2 linked regions of the Homo sapiens genome follow. The protein of the gene in region 1 interacts with the protein of each later gene in a pairwise test. Each region holds a gene or a part of one and is shown on either strand. Other genes may lie near its edges.

Evidence for each region. The genes of interacting proteins can lie anywhere in the genome.
Region 2: the proteins of NRBP1 (region 1) and SORBS3 interact in binary tests that used the Homo sapiens proteins (3 or more experiments, as listed by UniProt).

Annotation. Positions count from the first base shown.
Region 1 is NC_000002.12:27,423,154-27,431,790, reverse strand, and holds the start of NRBP1 (nuclear receptor-binding protein), read right to left. Parts: upstream 3,161-8,637; 5' UTR 3,060-3,160; intron 1-3,059. UniProt on the Homo sapiens protein: Required for embryonic development. Plays a role in intestinal epithelial cell fate and proliferation, thereby involved in the architectural development of the intestine potentially via the regulation of Wnt-responsive genes.
Region 2 is NC_000008.11:22,554,480-22,562,370, reverse strand, and holds part of SORBS3 (vinexin), read right to left. Parts: coding exon of another isoform or gene 7,865-7,891; coding exon 7,763-7,864; intron 7,509-7,762; coding exon 7,391-7,508; intron 5,657-7,390; coding exon 5,463-5,656; intron 4,243-5,462; coding exon 4,179-4,242; intron 1,037-4,178; coding exon 998-1,036; intron 507-997; coding exon 440-506; intron 1-439. UniProt on the Homo sapiens protein: Vinexin alpha isoform promotes up-regulation of actin stress fiber formation. Vinexin beta isoform plays a role in cell spreading and enhances the activation of JNK/SAPK in response to EGF stimulation by using its third SH3 domain.

The DNA.
Region 1 (8,637 bases):
CAGCCTTAAGGCTAGACCTGTAGCACCCTCAGCCAACTTATCCAGCTGAAACCCTTGGCTAATTTATCCAGCTAGAACTAACCTTGGCATTCACTATCCATCCCTTCTCTACACAGAACAAGCCCACTAGTCCATGGTGAGGCTACCCTTGGGGCACATGACTGGCAGTTGTTAGTGACTTCATCCCTGATGACCTCACCTTTCCTGTGATGTGAGTGTGACAAATGGGTATTGGTTAACAACATTTTTTTTTTCATTCACTCATTTAACAGATGTTTTATTAAGCATTTATTGTGGGCCAAGCACTGGGCTAAGTCCTTGAGATACAATAACAAACAAAATAAATGCCCACATTCAAGCAGCCACAAATTCAAGCCAGAGCTAAGACTTTAAGCTTCCAGCTTTCATTTCATTCACATTGCTCAAAGGCTCTGAAGTTTCCATTCTCTGGGGGACTAGATCTGATATAGGTTATTTATTTTTTGGCAGAGGGGATGGAGTCTCACTCTGTCACCCAGGCTGGAGTGCCGTGGTGCAATCTCGGCTCACTGCAACCTCCGCCTCCCAGGTTCAAGCGATTCTCCTGCCTCAGCCTCCCGAGTAGCTGGGACTACGGGCACGTGCCACCACACCCAGCTAATTTTTTGTATTTTTAGTAGAGATGGGGTTTCACCGTGTTAGCCAGGATGGTTTCAATCTCCTGACTTCATGATCCGCCCGCCTCAGCCTCCCAAAGTGCTGGGATTACAGGCGTGAGCCACCACACCCAGCCTAGGTTATTTCTTACAAGTATAAATAACTCAAGGTACAACTTTTATAGGAAAAAGTATTATACAGCATAACATTTTCAGGGTCATGGGTACTTGAAGAAAAAGAATTATTGAGAGCTAAATGCCATTAACTTGTACAAAAAGTCACAAGACAACCACTTAATGTTATTTCATATCTCTAAGAATAAAGACTGTGAAGGAGTTGGAACCTGTGTGTGCTCAGCTCAAGAGAGTTCTCTACAGTATGAAAGAGATACCCTGGGCCAGGCAAGCTGGCCCACGCCTGTAATCCCAGCACTTTGGGAGATGGTGGCAGGCAGATTGCTTGAGCTCAAGAGTTCGAGACCAGCCTGGGCAACAAAAAAATACAAAAATATACAAAAATTAGCAGGGTGTGGTGGCGCACGTCTATAATTCCAGCTTATTCAAGAGGCTGAAGCACGAGAATCACTTGAACTCAGGAGGCGGAGGTTGCAGTGAGCCCAGATGGCGCCACTGCACTCCAGCCTGGGTGACAGAGTGAGACTATGACTCAAAAAAAAAAAAAAAAAGAAAAAAAGAAAGAAAAGAAAAAGAAACTGATACCCTGGAAACTAAATGTGCTCCTCTAAGTTCAGAAGTCTCCAGTCAACACACCAATCTTTTGAAAAGCCCACATTTATTTTTAGAACTCTCTGATGCCCATTTGTGCCCATCTCTGCCCCCAATCTACACTACGTTTAACTCAACTCAGGAGATTTTTATTAGAAGACAGTCTAGTAAATACCAAAGAGCAATAGGCAGTACAGAGGAAATCTGGCAAGATATTCTTTCCCTATGTTATTTTCTAGATCCTGACTTATTCTAGAGAGATTTGCCAGGCGCGCTGGCTCATGCCTGTAATCCCAGCTACTTAGGAGGCTGAAGTGGGAGGATCGCTGGAGAGGGATTTAACTCAGCCAGCCAGGAAAGCTACTATCTGCCTGTTTTAGTAATCTACCAGAAAACTTCTGTTAGAGATCATGTTCCTTCTTCTGAAAAGTAGCTAAGAAAATGGTAAGACACTATTAGTTACTTCCTTGAGCAGCTGCATTCACTGAATGCATCTAAAATCTGAACAACTAAATAAAATTCCCAGCCAGACTACAGTAGGAAATAACAGTAGAATTCTAATACAGGAAAGCTGTAGCCAATGGGCTCCAGAGAAACTTCTGGACCGAGGACACAAATAACTAATCCACAGTAGGGCACCACAGGAGACACCAACCCTTCATCAGAGATAGATGCCCTTGGAATTTGCTTATCCCCCCCACCTTCCTAATTTTTGTGACTTTTTATCCCTTCCTAATTTTTCCTTCGCAGGCAAAATGAGGGCAGTGCCCAAGATTCTCCAGCACTACTCCTATTGATGAAGAAACCTCTGCGACACTGGGAGTTTTGTCTCGGAGCCGCTGAGAGGTTTTAAAGAGATAACACATGGAAAAGCTCATATACTCCCATAAGGGGATTCTCGCCGCCTCCAGCCACCCTGAGACATGCAGTGTGTTCACTTTGGAGTAATGCAGATCGCCCTGCAAAGTTTTTCCCCGACACTTTCGTTTATTGGACAGCAGCCCCTCTGCGTGTCAACTCCTCTGCAAGAGCTCACGGGCCCAGGCCTCTCAGCTGTCCTCACCCTGAACGGACCAGAGGGCCTCTGAGACCCGCAGCACAGTCCAGTCGGAAATAAAACCGCTCTGGGGAGGAACCCGGCCCCTAGAATTTCACACTCCAACAGGTCGCATGCCCTGCGTCTGGAAGGCAGCCGCGGCCCGCGCGGGAACCAGGCTGGGGCCCAGGGAGCCAGCGGCGGCCACCTCATCAAAGGCCGGACCGACAGCGCAGTCAGGGGCGCAGGCCACGCCCCCGCGCAGTCTGCGCACCTCCCCGCGAGCAGGCCAGGCCAGGCCGCCGAGCTTCCGCAGGCCGCCGGGCCGCGACCGCCGCCCCCGCCCCCGCCCCCACCCGCCGGGCCCCGCCTCTCGCAGCCGGAGTTCCAAGCGAACGCCAGGGCCTCCCGACCCGCGCCCGCAGAATCCCGGGGCGCCGCCGCCAAGCCAGAGACGCCAGGGAGGGCTAAGCAGCGACTGCGGGGCCGAAGCGGCCCCTCGGCTCCAGCAGGCAGGGCCCGATCGGGCCTGGGCTACTGAGTGAGCAGGGCCGCCTTCAGCACCCGACTGGCGGGTCCCACCGTCCCGGGCCTCGGAGGCCGATCCTTCCGTCCTCTCGCGAACCCCTCCCTCCCGGGCCCTCTTTTCCCTGGGCGCTCACCTCCCGACTCCGCGCCCCGCAGCCTGCGCTTCAGCTCCAGCTCGGGTTCCGGGGCCCCGGATCACAGCGACTCCCTCACAGCTGCGCTCCGCAGCGCAACCGAACTGCGGGCCCCGCCCTCGCGGCGCCCGGACCAACGATGGGCGGTGCCGCACCGCCGGCAGGTTTCCATTGGGTGACGTTCTGGGTGGGCGGGGCCCGGCCCTCGGGCGTTCGCTGGGGTGGGCTTCCACCCGCTCTCCTCCCCTTGCGCCGGTCCGGCCGAGACCTCTCGGAGGGGTCGATGTTTTCGGTCCCAGCTGGGGCTCGTCTCTCTGTCCACCCCACCGCCCGGTCCAGGTGCCCCAGATGGTTCTGCTGGACGCAGAGAGGGCCTCCTACCTCTTCTTGAAGGCGCCATGACAGTTCTAATGCCTGGAAAAGACAAAAGGAGCGAAAGACATAGCCTCAGTCCGAGAGGAGCGCCCCCACCCCAGCCCCCGCCTGCATTATTTTGGAACGAGACTGGTGTGCAGGACGCCAATTCTCCGGAAAGCTTTTAAAATTTACCTAACACTGAAAATTAGTAGTTAACGCTTGGTGATTGCTTAGCACTATTTGCTTAAACTTTGTAAGAGGTTTTCACAGATGTTATTTCATTTGATCCTCATAAGAACGAACTCATTGAAATTATCATTCAATGGTAGTTGACAAATGCAAAAACCTGAATCAGAGGTATTAAGCTATTAACCGAAAGTTAAGTTGGTAAGAGCCAAGTCTAGAATCCGAAACAGTAAATTTCATCAAAGGAGACTACGTTGAGAAGATGTTTGGAAAGAATTTAGATTGGTTTCGAGTTAGTGGAAAGAAAAGATGATAAATTCTTGGTGAGCTATTAATCTGCGAAAACTAAGCGCGGAGCCTTCAGGATGGAAGTTCACTCTGCCCTTAGACGTGTATGATGGAGGGAAGATGATGAATCAATCAACAGAACTTGGAAATGTCACAATCACCAAATTTTACTGTCATTAAAGAGAATCTCTAATCCTGTTTCACTGGGAGAAAGGACAACTGGCAGAAACCCTCTCGTTTTCTCATCATCTCAAAATACTCGTTTTTAAAACCAATCTTTCGGCCGGGCGCGGTGGCTCACGCCCAGCACTTTGGGAGGCCGAGGTGGGCGGATCACTTGAGGTCAGGAGTTCGAGACCAGCCTGCTCAATGTAGTAAAACTCCGTCTCTACTAAAAATACAAAAATTAGCCGGGCGAGGTAGCACATGTCTGTTCTCTCAAGCTGCTTGGGAGGCTGAGGCGGGAAGATCACTTGAGCCCAGGAGGCAGAGGTTGCAGTAGGCCAAGACTGCACGACTACGCTCCAGCCTGGGCAACAGAGTGTGAGAATCCGTCTCAAAAAAAAAAAAAAAAAAAAAAAAAAAAAAATATATATATATATATATATATATATATATATATATATATATATGTATGTATGTTTTACCCTTTCTTCCTTGATTCTTCTATCTTTGGAAGAGGGGGGCTCAAACACCCTTTTTAAAATCTGATGTAACTTATGGGCCTTCTCTTGTACTTTAAAAAATGCACTTACCCAACAAATTTAGGATATAATTTCAGGAAACTGAGGTTAAGAATCTTTGCTCTGGGCTGGGCGCGATGGCTCATGCCTGTAATACCAGCACTTTGGGAGACTGAGGCGGGCGGATCATTTGAGGTCAGGAGTTCAAAACCAGCCTGGCCAGCATGGTGAAACCTCGTCTCTACTAAAAATACAAAAATTAGTCAGGCGTGCTTGTGGGCGCCTGTAATCCCAGCTACTCAGGAGGCTGAGGCAGGAGAATCACTTGAACCCGGGAGGCAGAGGTTGCTGTTAGCTGAGATCAGGCCACTGTACTCCAGCCTGGGCGACAAGAGCAAGACTCCACCTAAAAAATAAATAAATAAATAAATAAAATAATTTCTTGGTTCTAATCTCAAAGGAAAAGATTAACCTTTCCTTCCTGTGGGCTCAAAAGCAATTGGAACACCTGGCCCAGGGTAAACATTCATTAAATATCAGTTCATGTTATCATTAGAGTTTCCCATTCTCTTCTGCCTGGGGCTTTATCATTATCAACCTTCCGCTTTCAACTAGGTCCTTTCAAGTATGCATGGAGGACCCTTTGGCATCCTCTAGCTCTCATTTTTAACCCTTCATTACATTTAAAATGATCAAATACTACCTGCATTTTCACCACCTCATGTATTTATTTTTTCCTGCTTATAAAAATAATTCATGCTCATTGCCAAAAAACAACGCAAAAATATTCCCAAAACTATTTTAGTATAATGTAATATTTATATAGTAGCTTCTATGTGTTAGGCACTTTTAATTGCTTTATGACAACAATGCTGACAACAGTAATATGAATATTAACAATTTCTGTAGAAAGTGAAATCTCTTATAATCCTACTTCCCCCGATAATTAAGACTTTGGTGTATTTTTTTTTTTTTGAGGTGGAGTCTCGCTCCATTGCCCAGGCTGGAGTGCAGTGGCACGATCTTGGCTCACTGCAACCTCCACCTCCCAAGTTCAAGAGATTCTCCTGGCCTCAGCCTCCCGAATAGCTGGGACTACAGGCGTGTGCCACCATGCCTGGCTAATTTTTTGTATATTTAGTAGAGACGAGGTTTCACCGTGTTAGCCAGGATGGTCTCGATCTTCTGACCTCGTGATCTGCCCACCTTGGCCTCCCAAAGTGCTGGGATTACAGACATGAGCCACCGCGCCTGACCTTTTATTTTTATTTTTCTAAGTATATATTCACATATGTGTATATAATTTTAAATGAAAACAAGTTTATACTACATAACCTTTTTCACTTTTTTCTATGGCAATGCACATGGCCCTACTTTAATTTTTTAACCACTACTTTAATTTTTTACTTTACTTGGGTTTTTTTTTGTTGTTGTCTTTTTGTTTTGTTTTGTTTTGTTTTTGAGATGGAGTCTTGCTCTGTCGCCAGGCTGGAGTGCAGTGGCGCAGTCGTGGCTCACTGCAACCTCCGCCTCCTGGGTTCAAGCGATTCTCCTGCCTCAGCCTCCCTAGTAGCTGGGATTACAGGCACGCACCACCATGCCCAGCTAATTTTTGTATTTTTAGTAGAGATGGGGTTTCACCATGTCGGCCAGGCTGGTCTTGAACTCCTGACCTCGTGATCCGCCTGCCTCGGCCTCCCAAAGTGCTGGGATTACAGGTGTGAGCCACTGCACCCAGCCTTTTTTTTTTTTAAGACAGGAATCTCACTCCGTCACCCAGGCTGGAGTGTGGTGACTCAGTCTCGGCTAACTGCCACCTCCACCTCCCAGGTTCAAGCGATTCTCGTGCCTCAGCCTCCCAAGTAGCTGGGACTACAGGCATGTGCCACCATGCCCGACTAATTTTTATATTTTTAGTAGAGAGAGAGTTTTACCATGTTGCCGAGGCTGGTCTTGAACTTCTGAACTCGGGCAATCCGCCCGCCTTGGCCTACCAAAGTGCTAGGATTACAGGTGTGAACCACCGTGCCCGACCCTTTACTGGTTAATTTTTAACCAGCAGAATATTCCACTGTCCAAATATGCCAGCATTTAATTAGTAACTACCTGTGGACATTGGGATAACATTCATCATTTATTATTATAAATAAAGCAGCAATGAGCATTTAGCTACATATATCTTTTTTTTTTTTTTTTTTTTTTTTTTTTTTTGTGAGATGGAGTCTCACTCTGTTACCCAGGCTAGAGTTCAGTGGCACAATCTTGGCTCATTGCAACCTCTGCCTCCCAGGTTCAGGCGACTCTACTACCTCAGCCTCCTGAGTAGCTGGGATTACAAGCATGTGCCACCATCCCTGGCTGTATTTTTAGTAGAGATGGGGCATGGTGGCACACGCCTGTAATCCCAGCTACTCGGGAGGCTGAGGCAGGAGAATGGCGTGAACCCAGGAGGTGGAGCTTGCAGTGAGCCGAGATTGGGCCACTGCACTCCAGCCTGGGTGACAGAGCGAGACTGTCTCAAAAAAATTTTTAAAAAAAGGCACCTGGCCACGGTGGTTCATGCCTGTAATCCCAGTACTTTGGGAGGCCAAGGTGGAATGATCACTTGAACCCAGGAGTTTGAGACCAGCCCGGGCAACATAGTGCGACCCTGTCTCTATAAAAGAATTTTTTTGGCCGGGTGCGGTGGCTCACACCTGTAATCCCAGCACTTTGGGAGGCCGAGGCGGAAAGATCACGAGATCAGGAGATCGAGACCATCCTGGCTAATACAGTGAAAACCTGTCTCTACTAAAACCAAAAAAATTAGCTGGGCGTGGTGGCGGGCACCTGTAGTCCCAGCTACTCAGGAGGCTGAGGCAGGAGAATGGCGTCAACCCTGGAGGTGGAGGTTGCGGTGAGCTGAGATTGCGCCACTGCACTCCAGCCTGGGTGACAGAGTGAGACCGTCTCAAAAAAAAAAAAAAAAGAATTTTTTTTTGTAATTAGCCAGGCATGGTGGCATGCCCCTATAGTTCCAGCTACTTAGTAGGTTGAGGCAGGAGGATCGCTTTAGCCTAGGAGGTCAAGGTTGTGGTGAGCCGTGATTGTGCCACTACACTCCAGCCTCTGTAACAGAGCAAGAAACTCTGGTATAGAGAGAACAATGGATATAACTTTGGGTACGTTAATAGGAAGAGGAATAGAAAGTAAAGATAGAGGAGAAAAATTAAGATAATTTTTCTTAATTTAAGAAACAGAGAGAAATGAAATAAATCAGTATTATGAAAAGGAAGTGAGTAGAAAATTTTAAGAAAGAGCTGTTCAGTAATCCCGAATGCTGAAGTGATCATGGAGAATTAAGAATAAAAAAGAGCTTTGCAGTAGAAACTTATAATAAATTGAGAGTAAAATTCCAGTAGCGAGAGGATGAAATTAACATTGTAGGAGATTGGGAAGACAATAGAATTTTTCTGATGTACAAAGAGCCCTTACAAGCCAGAAAGAAAAAAAATGATCAACTCAGTAAAGAAATAAACAAAAAAACTTGAATAGGCAAGAAATTGAAGAGGAAATACAACTGGGCAATAAACATAGGAAAAGATGTTTAGCTTCACCTATAATTAAATAAGTGCAAATTAAAACAGGATATCTTTTTTTAATTAATGTATCATCAAAATTAAAAAGATTGATGTTACTTGGGCCAGGCATGGTGACTCATGACTGTAATCCCAGCACTTTGGGAGGCCGAGGCAGGCAGATCACGAGGTCAGGAGATTGAGACCATCCTGGCTAACACAGTGAAACCCTGTCTCTACTAAAAATACAAAAATTACCTGGGTGTGGTGGCACACGCCTGTAGTACCAGCTACTCGGGAGGCTGAGGCAGGAGAATCACTTAAACCCAGTGAACCTGGGAGGCGGAGGTTGCAGTGAGCTGAGATCGCACCATTGCCCTCCAGCCTGGGTGACAGAGCAAGAGTCTGTCTCAAAATAAATAAATAAATAAATAAATAAATAAATAAACAAATATTGGTATTACTCAGTGTTGGTAAGGATGCAGGGGAAGAGGAACCCTAACATAC
Region 2 (7,891 bases), on another chromosome or scaffold:
AGGCTGGAACTTGGGTTCTTCCATATCCCTTGTTTTCTCTCAGGTTTCAAAGTGGACAGCGCCAGGTCCAAGTTCCCCTCAACAGTTCTGTCCACGGCTGTCCTGGCCGCCCCACTCCCGGTCTCATAAGACCGGTGGGATCTTTGGGGCAAAGAGTTCCTGCTGCTGACCACAAACGCATCACAGGCGTTCCTGGCCAGGAGCGGGTGCCAGGTCCACTCTTGCCTACCCTTCCCCCCTTGACCCTGTAGGGAAGAGAGTCTATGGGGGTGGTGGAGACCCAGAGATGGGACAGAGCCCAGACGGACACGGAAGTGAGACCCCACTCCTGGCTGGGCTCCGAGGCTGTGCCGGCTGTGGTCACGAGGGGGCGCCCGTCCCATGGTGTCTCGCGGGCCGCGCCCCTCCGCAGCCCTCGGCCCCGCCCCACTGTGCTCACCCACTGGAAGATGTTGCCGGGCCGGGCCTGTGGGCAGGTCTTTGCTGGGCTCCTAGATGCCTGGGGTCTGCAGAGGAGGTACACGAGGAAAGCATTGAAGGTGGGAGGAGACAGGCCGTGACTGGGGCTGAGGGTGCCTGGGTGATTATTTAGAGTTTCAGCACCACCCCCTTGCTCCTGGGTGGATGGTGGGGGCAGGGTGGTTGGTGCTCAGGGACACTGAACGCGGGCATTGCCCTCAGAGCTTTACGACATTTACTACATCTTCAAAACAACTCCGAGTAGGTGATGATCTCATCTTATAGATGAGGAAAGGGAGGCCCAGAGAAATCCCGGCCAGGGAGTGGCAGAGCGCGCGTTCCCCGTGCAAGCTGAGGCTGTTAATTACCACCTACCGGGGGATTTGAAGTGCTCTGGAAATGAGCTATAAAAACCTCTCAGGTTGAACTGAGCCAACTGGAGAGCCCCAAAGCCAGGCGGGGCTGCGAGTCCCAGCCCCAGGGAGGGGCGGACGCAGGCGCAGGGCTATGGCAGGCAGGTGGGCCCGCATCCCCTCACCTCTGGGTGGCTCCTCGAAGGTCCAGTCCAGCTGCAAGTCTGCAGGAGCAGAAGGGACCAGGTCATGGGACGGGGCAGAAAGCAAGGGCAGGGTGCCCTGGGAGGCAACCTCAGCCGCTCCCAACATCCCTAGAGTAGGGGGCTGAGGGCTGAGTCAGGGCCTGAAGAATGTCCCAAGGGAGGGAAGGAATTAGGAGGGCAGCTCTCTGGAGGGCTTGAAATGCCTCTGGCAGGCTTGGGGCCTAAGCGAGCCAAGCGGGCAGCCGCCTTGCCCAAGCCCTCCTGCTCCTCCCTCCCTGTTCCCACACACACCCTCTCCTGACCTTTGTGGACTTGCCCTCACCACTCAGGCTGGGGAAACTCGACTTGCACCCTCTTCCAAACGCTTTCCTTCCCCATTTGCCAAGACCCACTCCTAGCTCCTCAAGGTGCCTGGGAATTTCTGGGGCTTCCTGGAAAGAGCTACTGACCCACTGCTCCCCACGGCGCGTGCGCGCGCGCACACACACACACACACACACACACACACACACACACACACGCATGCGCTGCAACGGCACCTGCCTAAACGCCAGCCACATCACCCCTCACTGGACCCCACACCCTCCTCTGACTCCTGGATTTGTCTGCTTTCCCCCATAGTAAACTGTAACCAGTGACCATAAAGACCACACCATCTCCAATCCCCCTACTCCCCGTCTCCCTAAACAGGCTTTTGCTCACCACTGCCCAACCACTCACTCTTATCAAGGATGCTGGTGACCTCCACGTTGCCAAATCTGACAGTCAATTCTAAGTATTCATCTTACTCAACCCATCAGCTGCATTTGTCACCACTGGTCACATTTTTCTTTTGGAATTCCCTTTCCACTTGGCCCCAGGGAGATCTCTCCGTTTTCCTCCTACCTCCCTGGCTCTACCTTCTCAGTTGCCTTTTTGGTTCCGCCTCATCTCTCAAACTTCTAAGCATCCAGGTGCGTGGGGGCTCAGTCCTGGGGTCTGTTTGTCTCTCTATCTCCCTAGGTGATCTTGTCTAGTCTTATGGATTGTTGTTTTTCAGAGACGGGATCATGCTATGTTGCCCAAGCTGGACTTGAATTCCTGGGCTCCCAGGAATTGAATTGAACTCCTCAGCCTGCCAAATAGCTGAGACTGCAGGTGTGTGCCACCACACCCAGCTAGTCTTAAGGCTTTTAAAACGCCATCTATTCCCATGTTTCACAATCTTGGCTGCTAGTTAAAAGTTTAAAGTTTCCCCACTAGAATTACTGGGGAAACTTTAAATCAAAATCTCTCTCTTCTTTTTTTTTTTTTTTTGAGACTGAGTCACCCAGGCTGGAGTGCAGTGGGGTGATCTCAGCTCACTGCAACCTCTGCCTCTCAGGTTCAAGCAATTCTCCTGCCTCAGCCTCTGGAGTAGCTAGGATTACAGGTGCACACCACCATGCCCAACTAATTTTGGTATATTTGATAGAGACAGGGTTTCGCCATGTTGGCCAGGCTGGTCCCAAAATCTCTTTTGAATGAGTCCCAGGTATTTCCATCTGCAGTTTTAGACCTTGTCCCGTGAACTGCAGACTTGGATATTCATCTGCTTACTCAACCTCTTCACTCAGAGGGAACATGTGTCTAAAACTGAACACCTCTTTTCTTTTTTTCTTTTTTTTTTTAGAGACAGCGTCTTGCTCTATTGCCCAGGCTGGAGTGCAGTGGAATGGTCTCAGCTCACTGCAACCTCCGCCTCCCAGGTTCAAGCAATTCTCCTGCCTCAGCTTCTCGAGTAGCTGGGATTACAGGTGCATGCCGCCACATCCAGCTACTTTTTTGTATTTTTTAGTAGAGATGGGGTTTCACCATGTTGCCCAGGCTGGTCTCGAACTCCTAAGCTCAGGCAATCCACCCACCTTGGCCTCCCAAAGTGCTAGGATTACAGGCGTGAGCCACCGCGCCCGGCCTGTGAATGCTACTCCTACAGTCTTTTCTGTTTTGACAAATGGCAACTCCAATCTTCAACTTGCTGAGGTTTAAAACCATCCTTGACTCTCTCTTCCAAGCCACGTCCAATCCATCAGCAAATTCCAGTGACTGCAGTGTATTCAGAGTCTCATCCTGTCCCACCAGGGCCACTGCTACCGCCCTGGTCTAACACACGATTATCTCTCCCCTGGATTGAAGCAAAGTTGTAAAGGTGGCCTTTTCTCCCTAGCCCTTACCAGGCAAGGGAACTGGTTCCACCATTCCTTTCCCACCCCACAGCCAGGCACAATCTTTTCAGCCATTACTTGTCAGAGCATGGCACTCTTCCGCTCAGTGGCTCCTCCTTATTTGCACCGTAAAAGCTGAAGTCCTTATAATGGCCCACAAGGCCCCACGTACCCTGACACCACCACCTCTCTGACTCCATCTCCCACCACATGCTCCTCGCTCCAGGCCAGGCTCTCCTTGCCCGTCCAGAACATGCTTCTACCTCTGGGTCTTCGGAGCTCCCTTTGCTGGAATGCTTCCCCCAGCTCTGCCAGGCCGACTCCTTCACTCCCTCCATGGTCTGATCAAACACCGCTTACAAATGACCTTCCTGGCCGCTCCTGGGTGAAGGAGCAGCCTCCCTGCATGGGGCACTCTCCCAGTCTGGCTTTATTTTTCCCTAGCCCTTTCCACCATCTGTCATGTCAAAGGTGTGTCTGTTTATTGTGTGACTTCCTTTGATCTTTGGCACCTAGAATAGTGCTCAGCATGTGGTACATGCTCAATAGATGGTCAAGGACTCACTGAATGGATGGGTGACCTCGGAGCCAGCTCATAGGCACCCCCAGGGTTGGCTGCATTTTGAGTTGTGGAAGAAAGCAATGCCTCCAGTAAGGGAATGACCGCTAACAGTGGCATTCCAGCTTGGCAGGGAAATCAGAGAGGGACTTAAGGAAAGGAATGGCTTCTCAGTCCCCTCAGAGGACACTGTGGGACAGTGGCTGGTCAATGTTCTTCTTGGGGATGCTCTGGAGACCGCTGCTGGCCCCGAGTACAGGGAGGGGACTGCCTATTTTCAGGACTACTCATTAGAGCCTGGGAGAAGGTGGAGAAGAACCCCTTGAGCAGCTAAGTCCCCTTTTCTTTCCCTGTCTCTCCAAGCCCCAGGGGCCAGAATCCACTTTGGCAGGGAGAGGGCCCTGGAAGGGTATCTTACCTGGCATTTTCCGGTGAATCTGCTGGAACATTCTCCGGTACCAGTCTCTGGGTCTGTCAACGCTCTGGGATCAGAAAATGCAAAGTCAGTCCTCCCTGCTTATTCACCCTCCCAATTTCAAGCCACAAAAATCTTTCCCTAGTGAGTCCCTTCTCTGGCCATCCCTGAACCCCCCATAGGTGGGCTGGGAAATGCTTCTCTTGCGATCTCTTTAATAACAATAGCTTCATGTAACACGTCCTATATAAGTAAGATATATGACAAGATCTCCATCGAAGTGTATGCAATAATGATGTTATGAGATTTGGGGCAATTTACATTTTTTCTCTTTGCTTTTCTTTATGTCTAGTGTTTCTACAAAGAACATTTTTCTTTTGTGGGGAGACAGGGTCTCCTGTGTCACACAGGCTGGAGTGCAGTGGCATGATCATAGCTCACTGCAGCCTCCAATTCCTGGGCTCAAGCAATCATCCTGCCTCAGCCTCCTGAGTAGCTGGAACTACAGTCGTGCACCACCTTGCCTAGCTAATTTTATTTTATTTTTTTTTTTATAGAGACAGGGTCTCACTATGTTGCCCAGGCTGGTCTGGAACTCTTGGTTTCAAGCAATCCTCCCGCCTTGACCTCCCAAAGTGCTGGGATTACAGGCGTGAGTCACTGCACCTGGGCCAAAAATGACAGCAATAATGTAGGAGTGAGATGCGTGTTTCACATCACCTGCTTCATCCAAGCCTCAAAACAGCCTCAAAACAGGAAGGGAATGTTACCAGCTCCAATTTCCAGATGAGAAAATGGAGCTGGCTCAAGACACAAAGGTGGATGGAAAAGGGCAGGGTATCCCCAGTCCTAACTGGACCCCCGGATCCTTCCACGCTTGCCACAGTGAGAGACCTTCTCACACAAGACTCACTCACTCATTCGGCCGGTCAGTCATTCATTCAGCAACCATTTCATGAGCGTCGTGACAGGCCCTGGGGATATGAAACTAAGAGAGGGTCCCCTGCAGCCTCAGGCCTTACAGCAGGGGTTCTCTACCTTTGAGGCCCTGATGAGAGTTCTAGATCTGTACCCCGCACAAACCACTTGAGCAACTCAGGCACACGAGGGTGTCTGCAGCTTTATGAGGTTTACAGCCGCTGAACCCCACCACGGTTGAACCCCTGCTTAATCTGGGATGGTTTGGGTGCGGCCTTTATTGCCCCACCCCCATTTTAATGCACAGAAGTGCAGCTCCCTGTAGATCCCTGGGCCCCATCTCTCCGTGGCCCCCAGCCCTGGACTCACGGATCGGGGGGCAATGGGCATGCCGCTCTCGTCCACGGGCCCGATTCCCTCGTACTTGACCCAGCGCTTGTCCCGACGCTTGCTGTCCTTGGTCCACGTGGCTGACCAGTTCTGGGTGTGCTGGGAGGCAGGGATCTTTGTGCTTGCAGAGGGCTTGCTCCCAGGGCCTGGCCAGGTCTGATACCACGCAGGGTCTGTTGGGTGCGTGCAGGAGAGCATTAGTGAAAGGCAGGGGTCTCCACCTGAACCTGTGTGTCCCTTAGCTCCTCAGAGCATGGATCTCTGTGGGTTCAAAGTTTCAACATCGCCTTGTTTGTTTGAGTGGATGACTCAGAGCACCACGGGCCTCTGTTTGTTTAAGTGAATTTAAATGGATTTGATCTTGAGAATGCCGTGCCTGGCCCTACCCCCATCCTTCTTTCCTGGGACTATCCTAAGTGCTTTCAGAATAAGGTCTGGAAATCATTACTTGTAGAGAATGCAGGGGACATCCCAGCTGGGGTGTGGCAGTAAAGATGCTGGGCTTAGAGGGGACAGACTTGAATTCAGACCCCAGCTCTACCACCTATTGGCTGCCATGGCCTGGGGTACATCAGTCACCTTCTCAGTGTCTCAGTTTCCACTTCTGTAAAACAAGGGTCATTGTGACAAGGATTCAGTGACATCTAGCGTGTGTGACTGTACCCAGCACAGTGCCTGGCACACAGTCGAGAGGCTCTCAGTGAAGGTCAGAAACCCATTCCCCAGACATGGTTGTGACTGAGTCCTCAACTTACCCATAAGTGTTAGCCTCTAAGTAGCTAGGGCAGCAGAATAAGGGCTTTGAGGCCAGATGTACAAGTGTGTGAATTGCAGCTCAGCCTCTATGGCTGAACATCTCTGCGAATGGGGTTCCTTACTGGGAAGCTGTCAGTCATCATCACCCCTACTTTGTCAGGATATCGAGGGGTTAAACGAGGTGAGCCTCGTAAAGTGTTTTTACAGTGTCCAGCACGCTCTGGGTGTTCCATAATTGTGTGGGTGTTTTTTTTGGTTTTGTTTTGTTTTTGTTTTTGTTTTGAGACAGTTTTGCTCTTGTTGCCCAGGCTGGAGTGCAGTGGCACGATCTCAGCTCACTGCAACCTCCACCTCCCAGGTTCAAGTGATTCTCCTGCCTCAACCTCCCAAGTAGCTGGGATTTCAGGCACCCGCCACCACACCCAGCAAATTTTTGTATTTTTATTAGAGATGGGGTTTCACCATGTTGGCCAGGCTGGTCTCGAACTCCTGACCTCAGGTCATCCACACACCTCAGCCTCTCAGTGTGTGTGTGTTTTAAGTGACAGGGTCTTGCTGTGTCATCCAGGCTGATAGAGACAGGGTCTTGCTATGTTGCCCAGGCTGGATAATTGTTAAATGAATAAATTCCTTTACACAGCACCTGTCTTAGGGGAATGCTTGATAAAGGATGTCACTTTAGGAGAGACATGTTCAGGGCTGGCCTGCACCCAGGAGTTCCCAGGACCTCTGGACTGGGATCTAGAACTGCCTCTCTAACCTCCTGCTGGGTAGCCTGTTGGGCCTGAATGGGACAGTCTCCACCCCTTCCCAAGCCAACAGATACCCACATCACCTCCACCCTTCCATCCCCAGTCCCTGTGGGAGGTCCTCCGGCGCCCAGGGCTCCTGCACGCTTCCTTTCCCTGGCACCAGGCTGGAGGGCAGGGGAAGGGATGCATCAGCCTGCTCTCCCCAAGCGGGTGTCTCTTGCAGAGTCAGCAGGCTCCGCAGGGAGGGGCTCATAGTGAGCCCAGAGGCCTCTGAGGAACCTCCTCATGGCCTTGAGAACCCCATCTCCAGCTGCTGCCCCTCCCGCTTGACACAGGGCAGTGCCAGATGGCAGGGCCCTGACCCTCCATCTCCAGCATGAGGCTCCTGAGCAGACCTACCCGGGTGCTGGGAAGCATCTCGTCTTGGTGTGTAGCCCCCATTGCACACAGTCCTGGGCGCGGGGTCGTGGAACTGGAAATTAAGGGTGTTGGAGCCACCATTCCGGATCACGGGCACCTGCGGGGAGGGGCCAGGAGCGGCAGCTCAGGGCCCAGCAGGGCGGGAGGGAGGGATGGCTACTAGGCACAGCCCACACCCCTCGGTGACAGTCCCAGGCCCGCCTGACGATTTTGTGGGAAACCAGCGAGGCCCCCCAGAGCTCTCTTCAGCCCTCCCTCCATCCCTTTCATCCTCCTGCCCCCACCTGACCTGCTAGCGTCCCAACCAACTCCGGGCCCGCAGGACACCCTCCTCCCTACTGACTCACTCACCCGTGTCCCCCGGGAGGAAGACCCTATGTGGGACTGGAGGTGGCCAGGGATGAAGTCGTCCAGGCTGAGCCCAGCGCGGAGGCTGCGGGGTGGGCCCTGCATGCTTGGGTCAAGGTGGGAGGACTCCGG